Homo sapiens: one gene and its partner. The protein of the gene in region 1 purifies or fractionates together with the protein of each later gene. This does not show direct contact. Each region holds a gene or a part of one and is shown on either strand. Other genes may lie near its edges.

Evidence for each region. The genes of interacting proteins can lie anywhere in the genome.
Region 2: the proteins of SIGLEC5 (region 1) and INTS4 purify together in Homo sapiens (affinity purification with mass spectrometry; one large-scale study listed by BioGRID and IntAct). This does not show direct contact.

The regions. Positions count from the first base shown.
Region 1 is NC_000019.10:51,627,602-51,631,589, forward strand, and holds the start of SIGLEC5 (sialic acid-binding Ig-like lectin 5 isoform 1 precursor), read right to left. Parts: upstream 2,801-3,988; 5' UTR 2,735-2,800; coding exon 2,698-2,734; intron 2,616-2,697; coding exon 2,232-2,615; intron 2,036-2,231; coding exon 1,757-2,035; intron 1,476-1,756; coding exon 1,437-1,475; intron 491-1,436; coding exon 233-490; intron 146-232; coding exon 1-145. UniProt on the Homo sapiens protein: Putative adhesion molecule that mediates sialic-acid dependent binding to cells. Binds equally to alpha-2,3-linked and alpha-2,6-linked sialic acid. The sialic acid recognition site may be masked by cis interactions with sialic acids on the same cell surface.
Region 2 is NC_000011.10:77,921,669-77,925,168, forward strand, and holds part of INTS4 (integrator complex subunit 4), read right to left. Parts: intron 3,225-3,500; coding exon 3,082-3,224; intron 3,000-3,081; coding exon of another isoform or gene 2,978-2,999; exon of another isoform or gene 1,783-2,977; intron 804-1,782; coding exon 688-803; intron 1-687. UniProt on the Homo sapiens protein: Component of the integrator complex, a multiprotein complex that terminates RNA polymerase II (Pol II) transcription in the promoter-proximal region of genes.

The DNA of each region.
Region 1 (3,988 bases):
AATGAGCCCTGGCTGCTGTTCCCCTCCAGCGGCTTCTCCTCAAGCCGCCAGCACAGGGAGGGGGCCGGCCGGGCTCGAAAGGAGCATCTGCAGTGCAGACCCTCAGCCTCCCAGGAGCAGGAGGGGCCCAGCAACTGTGGGAGGGCTGTGGGGAGGGAGGACAGAACTCAGCAGGGGGCCTCTTCCTTCTTTAATACCATGCAGTTCCTGCTCCAGCTGCCCCCACACTCACAGTAAACTGAGAGATTCAGAAAAATTTGCAGGAAGCCCAGCGGGTGCTGAGCGCGGCAGGTGAAGCCTCCTTCTTCTGCAGACCTTACTCGACGAAGCTCCAAGATCCCGGTATTGGAGATGGGGGTGGCGTTCAGGGCAGGGGAGCCCTGGAACCAGCTCAGGTGTGCAGGGGGGTTGCTGGGAGCATCACAGAGCAGCCGCAGAGCCTGGCCCTCCAGGACCGGAAGGTATGAGGTGTTTTGCAGGATCTCTAGGGCTTTGGGGAGAGAAGGGTGGGGAAAGAGAGATGGGGCCAGGGAGGCTGACAGTCCCTATCCTTCCCTCCTTCCCAGGATCCAGATGACATCTCCCTCTCCTCCCCTGGCCTATGCTGGCTTGATTGCATCCTGGTTCAAAGGCTGGGCCTTTGCACACTCAGGAAACTGACCAAAAGTGTCTGAGTCTCATGTCTCCAGAGGAGGCTCAATATCTCACTGGTACATGCCTGGACTGTGGTGGAGAGAGGACAGAGAGCCCCCGGTGGCGTTGGGAAATACAGTCCGCTAATGTGACAGGAAATAAGACTGAGGATGCAGGAGTGGAAGGGTGAGAGAAGAACCACAGAGCTGGGCTGACTGAGATGAGAGGGGCATGGAGTGGTCCTTAGTGACTGTGGAAAGAACCAGACCACAGGAGGGATGGGAGATGGGTGGGGTCTAAAGTCTGTTCACTGCTTTGAGCAGAGTGCATGAGTGTGCACCTGTGTGCGTGTGTGTGTGCGTGTGCGGGTGTACGTACATGTGTGCGTGTGTGGGTGTATCTGCATATGTGTGTGTGGTGTATGTGCATGTGTGCGTGTGTATGTGCATGTGCCTGTGTGGTGTATGTGTGTGTGTGCATATGTGTGTGGTGTGTGTGCATGTGTGCCTGTGTGCATGTGTGTGTGTATGTGCGTGTGTGTGTGGTGTATTGCATGTGTATGTGTGTGGTGTATATGCATGTGTGTGTGTGCGTGTGTGTGTGCGTGTGTGCATGTGTGCGTGTGTATGTGCGTGTGTGCATATGTGCCTGCACATGGGGCTCACAGAAGGTGGAAGCCAGAAGGCAGTAATTCTCATTCTTGCTCTTCCCAAATCTGATTGCATTCAAGCTCTGATTCTCTACCTCTGCTCAGAGACAGACCCAGAGGCAGGTCCCAGCTTCAGAGAGGAGGTCTTTCCTACCTATGCCGTTCCTGAAGATGGTGATGGTCTGTGGAGCATCTGGGATAAAAAGATATAAACTTGGCTTCAGCAGTGAGGAGTGAGATGGGCATGGGCCCAGGAGGTACCCAAAGAGGAGCCACAGAAACCCACCAAGCGGGGAAGGCTGTCCTGTCTCACTCCCCGCAGATCCCAAGGCTTAGATCCACACACAAGGTTTCTCAAGTTATTGTTTTGTTTCTCTCTGTCTTCCTTACACACACACACACACACACACACACACACACACCCCTCACTCCCACTGCCCTTGAGGACTCAGCTGTGTCCCCAGCACCACTCACAGGAGACATTGAGCTGGACAGTTCTCTCCGTGGTCACCTGAGCTCCTTGGCGTTTCATCTGACAGGTGAGGTTGGTGCCATGGTCCTCGGGCCTGGGGGTGAGGGTGAGCTCCGAGGAGCGGGTGGTCTCGGGGTCCAGGGGGCTGAGGGCATTCCCCGTCCAGGAGAATGTGAGAGGTGGTCCCGCTTCACAGGATCCTGGAAGGCTGCAGCTCAGCCTTGTGGGGCGGCCGGACTCCAGAGGCTCCAGAAAGTGGATGTCGGGTTTCTCTATCAGGGCTGAGGAGGAGACAGGGAGATACCTGGGCCCCAGGGGCTTGAGGACGTAAGGTGTGACCCCGAGAGTGGCCAGGCCTCAGGCCCCGACCTGCCCCAAGTCCTACACCTCCTCCAGCCGCCCCTGCCCAACTCCTGTCCCTGTTCTCATACGGGGGTCTCCACGTCCCAGGGTCCTCTCCTGGGGTCCCTGCCATACCTGTCACCTCCAAGTTCAGCTTATTCTGTTGGTAGCTATATTTTACATCCCTTCCTCTCTCCACGCGGAAGAAATAGCTTCCCGTGTCCTCCATTCTGGCATCTCCGATGCTCAGGGAGCAGTTCTTCTTCTGGACATCCCCAAGGAGGCGGAATCGGCCCTGGGTCTCTGGCTTCACTCTTCTGTCTGGGTTGTTTGTGGCCACAACCTCAGCGTAGTATGGGATCTCCCCGTCCCGGAACCAGTAGACGTAGAGTGGGGGAGAGGAATACCAGGATCTCCAGGGGTAAGAGAAGGAGCAGGGCACAAGGACGCACAGGCCCTCCTGCACCGTCACCGACTTCTGCACTTGCAGCTCGTACACTGGCTTCTCCTGCAGGGACCCTGGGGGGACACAGAAGCTCAGCTGCAGCTCCAGCCCCCCTTCTCACCCCTGTGCCTGTCCCTCCTCCCTCAGCTCACTCACCCCCCCACAGCAGGGGCAGCAGCAGCAGGGGCAGCATGTCTCCATCCGCCAGGGCCCCAGCCCAGTCCCAGGTCCGGCTGTCAGGGAAGGAAATGCTCCAAATGTCCAAACGTGGGGTGGGGCTGAGAAAGCCCCGACAGGAAGCCGGAGGGTGAGTGAGAGCTGTGGACGCGCACAGAAGGGGAACTTGGGCATCACGTGCTGTTGGGGTGAGGCGGGGGCTGGGAAGCCATTCTGCTCCCACCCCGACTGGACGCCGCAGGTGAAGATACTGAGGCCCCCAGACGATGTGAGGCTTGTCCAGCTGAGGATCTGGAGGTGATCACCCCTCAAATGATGTTTCAGTCATGAGTGAGATCCTCAGGGGGCTGAATGCAGAAAGAAAAGAGAAACAAGGGCTTGTCCTGGTGATGAGGTGAGATGTCAGAACCACCCTCCACCTAAAAACCATGAAACATTCTGGAAATACATAATTTTAAATTTGATTTTAAATGTTCAAAGTGACCAGGCATGGTAGCTCATGCCTGTAATCCCAGCACTTCGGGAGGCTGAGGTGGGAGGGTTGTTTGAGCCCAGGAGTCTGAGACCAGCCTGGGCAACATAGCAAGTCACCATCTCTACAAAAAATAAAAACTATTAGCTGGTGTGGTGGCACACCTATAGTCTCAGCTCCTCCGGGGCACTGAAATAGGAGAATTCCTTGAGCCCAGGAGTTTGAGGTTGCTGTGAGCCGTGATCGCACTACGGCATTCCAGCCTGGGCAACAGAGTGAAACCCTGCCTTAAAAAAAAAAAAAAAAAAGTTCAAAAGGGCTGAAAAAAAATTTTTTTGACCCAAATTTCGTGGAGGGTCAGAGCATGAGAGAGCTGAAGCACTCTTATGTTAAGAAGATTCTTGGGACACAGCACAGTCCACTTTGGGTCTTGATGGACCTGAGGGTCTTGTGGGACGGCAGTGAAACACAAGCCCTGCTAAAGCCTCATCCTATTAAGGAGCTACAGAAGCAAATTTGCCACTGTGAGGCTGATGAAGCTCAATCTTCAATGCCCTCCCTTGCAGGATCCACTTTTCAGATGCCCAGGAGGGGCCCACGCAATGTGTGGAAATAACCTGCCTTGTTACTGCTCTTTTATGAAAGAAATTTCATAATAGTTTCCCAAAATTTAACAATATATTAAAAATTTTTCACATTCCGATTAATGTGTTGTGAGAATAAAGACAGTTTCTTAAACTATCAATGATCAAAACAAACGTCAACCACCCATGCCAGAAGAAATACCGACTTCTCTTT
Region 2 (3,500 bases), on another chromosome or scaffold:
AGAGACTGCCAAGAATACAAAAAATGGAAATGATTTTGCCTATAAAGTAAGCAACTATATTGCCTATCAAAGTACATACTGGACAGGCATGGTGGCTCACGCCTGTAATCCCAACACTTTGGGAGGCTGAGGTGGGTGGATCACTTGAGGTCAGGAGTTTGAGACCAGCCTGGGCAACAAGGTAAAACCCCGTCTCTACTAAAAATACAAAAATTAGCCGGGAGTGGTGGCAGGCACCTGTAATCCCAGCTACTTGGGAGGCTGAGCCAGGAGAATCATTTGAATCCGGGAGGCGGAGGTTGCAGTGAGCTGGGGTGGTGCCACTGCACTCCAGCCCAAGCAACAGGTTAGGAATTTGAGACCAGCCTAGCCAACATGGTGATACCTCATCTCTACTAAAAATACAAAAATTAGCTGGGTGTGGTAGCGGGCGCCTATAATCCCAGCTACTCAGGAGACTGAGGCAGGAGAATTGTTTGAACCCGGGAGGCAGAGGTTTCAGTGAGCCGAGATCAGGCCACTGCACTCCAGCCTGGGTGACAGAATGAGACTCTGTCTTCAAAAAAAAAAAAAAAAAAGAAAGAAAAGCAAAGAAAAGAAAATTCAGACTACCCTAGCTATACTGCAGAAGGAGATGCCAAAGCTGCCTGCCAACACATCAGGGCCCATCCTAAGCACAGAGGATACAAGCTGGATCATCCATGTCTGGTTCAGCTGTGTCAAAAAATGGGTGGGTGCTCAGAAGCTCTGGCACCAAGGGAAGCACCAGGGTTGGATGCCGACTTCCCAGAAACTTCAAGCACCTGAAACAAACAAATAAGAATGCACATCAACAAATTAGTAAAGTTAGTCCTTTGAAAAGTACTAGGAACTGGAATCAGAAAACCTGAACTGGAATTGGAAATTCTCAACCATATACTTTTGCTAACTCTATGACTTCAGATAAGTCACCCAGTTATTCTGGAACTCGGTTAATTCATCTAAAAAAACTGGTTATTATAAAGATAAAAGAACTGGTTATTTAACCAAGAGCCATTTCCCCCATCTTTCTTCCTGAGAGAGCCCTGATTTTACTCAGGTATCAGGCAGGCAGCAAAGTGCTCGGAAAAGGCAGGTCCAGCCCAAGAGCTGAACCACTATTGGTCTAAACCCATCATGGCAATCCCATTCCCATTTTCCAGTGACTGGTTTGCTGGTGGGCAAGTAAGCCAGTTCTAGACAATGGAGCACGAGAGTATGCTGGCTGGGGAGCTTCTCAGGGATGTTTTTGCAAATCAAAAGAGCAATGCATGAAAGGGAATGACCCTTCCTTTCTGTCTTGAGATATTATCTTATGAGGCAGCCATCTTACAACTATGAGAAGAAAGCCGGCCGGGTGTGGTGGCTCACGCCTATAATCCCAACACTTTGCGAGGCCGAAGTGGCTGGATCAGGAGGTCAAGAGATCAAGACCATCCTGGCCAACATGGTGAAACCCCATCTCTGCTAAAAATACAAAAATTAGCTGGGCATGGTGGCACGGGCCTGTAGTCCCAGCTACTCGGGAGGCTGAGGCAGGAGAATCACTTGAACCTGGAAGGCGGAGGTTCAGTGAGCCAATATTATGCCAATGCACTCCACCCTGGCGATAAAGAGAGACTCTGTCTCAAAAAAAAAAAAAAAAAAAAAGCCAAGAGAACTGCAGAGAAACCAAAGAGAGCCCTGGTAACCTGTTGAATGACGAATCCTGAAACCAACCTTCTGACCACTTGTTATGAAAAAACAGACTTATTGGCTAAGATATTTTTAATCAGATTGTCTTTTTTATTTGTGGGCAAAAACATTCTGATTGATATCCTGGGTGAAGTCCTGAAATCACAGATCTGTCTGAAACTAAGTAGCCTTATGCAAGTAAATTTTTTCATCTACAAAATGAGATTAAAAGTCATTACTTCATAGAGTTGCTATACGCATTAAATAACTAACATAAAGTACTTAGCAAAGTGTCTGTCACATAGTAAGAACTCAATGTTAGCTATTATAACTACATGAGGGCCCTTTATAAACTATAAGGAACTATAAAAGCAAGGTAATTATATATTTTTATTATTGTTTATGGTTTTTTTTTTTTTTTTGAGACTGAGTCTTGCTCTGCTGCCCAGGCTGGCATGCAGTGGCACAATCTCGGCTCACTGCAACCTCTGCTTCCAGGGTTCAAGCAATTCTCCTGCCTTCGCCTCCCAAGTATCTGGGATTACAGGCGTGTGCCACTAGGCCCGGCAGATTTTTGCATTTTTAGTAGAGATGAGGTTTCACCATGTTGGCCAGGGTGGTCTTGAACTCCTGACCTCAGGTGATCCACCCGCCCCAGCCTCCCAAAGTGCTGGGATTATAGGCGTGAGCCACTGCACCCAGCCAATTTAGTGCACCTTCTAAACCAGAACTTAATGAATAAAAAATAATAAGGCCAGGCACAGTGGCTCATGCCTGTAATCCCAGCACTTTGGGAGGCCGGGGCAGGGGGATCACCTGAGGTCAGGAGTTCAAGACCAGCCTAACCAACATGGTAAAACCCCATCTCTACTAAAAAAAAAAACAAAAATTAGTTGGGGTATGGTGGCATGCAACCTATAATCCCAGTTACTCGAGAGGCTGAGGCAGGAGAATCGCTTGAACCCAGGAGGCAGAAGTTGCAGTGAGCTGAGATCACGCCACTGCATTCTAGTCAGAGTGACAGAGCGAGACTCCGTCTCAAAAAAAAAAAGTAACAAAACAAAACACTATATAGGAGAAAGAGGAAATCTAATTAATTTATTTCTATACTTGTAACAGCTACCACAAGGGTTGGTGCATAGTCAGCACACAGCAGGCACATAATATTTGCTAGGTGGATAGATGCACAAATTAGTAAGTAATCTAAAATGTGATACTCAGCTTAGGAATCAGATTCCTGAGAGTTCGGTTAAGTTGAATCAGGTTTCTAAAGTAAAGGCAAAATTCAGGGCCGTACTATCCTCAATCTATAAGGACGGAACAAATGTCAGCATTATACATTTACCACATTATGGGACTCAGTGAGTAAATGGGCAAAAAAGTCATTACTTCCATATGGAGTCCCTATCAGTAGGGTACTTGGTTAAATTTTTCAGCAGCTCCACCAATGCAAGATGAATCCCTTCTTTGGTTGAAACATTAGTACAGCATAAGAGTTCATGAAGAGCCTCTCGAATATCTCTGGATGAATCCTTTTAAAAAAAAAGTAATAATAACAGTAGTTACTGTTGGTTAGCAGACTCAGCCTCTATCTACCATCCCCTTCTACCCAGCCACCTTCCCATCTAGGGTGGCCATGTAACAAAGTATGTGGAAGTTTTTTAGCTGAAATTCCTGAAATATCTTTCATTTTATTGATAAAGGACCAGAGGCAGTAGCTTTATCCCCTTTGTTCTTTAACCTTCCTTTTCCATCCTATCTGGAACTCAATCATGATGCTGAAGGTACAAGAGCCTTTTTGCAACTAG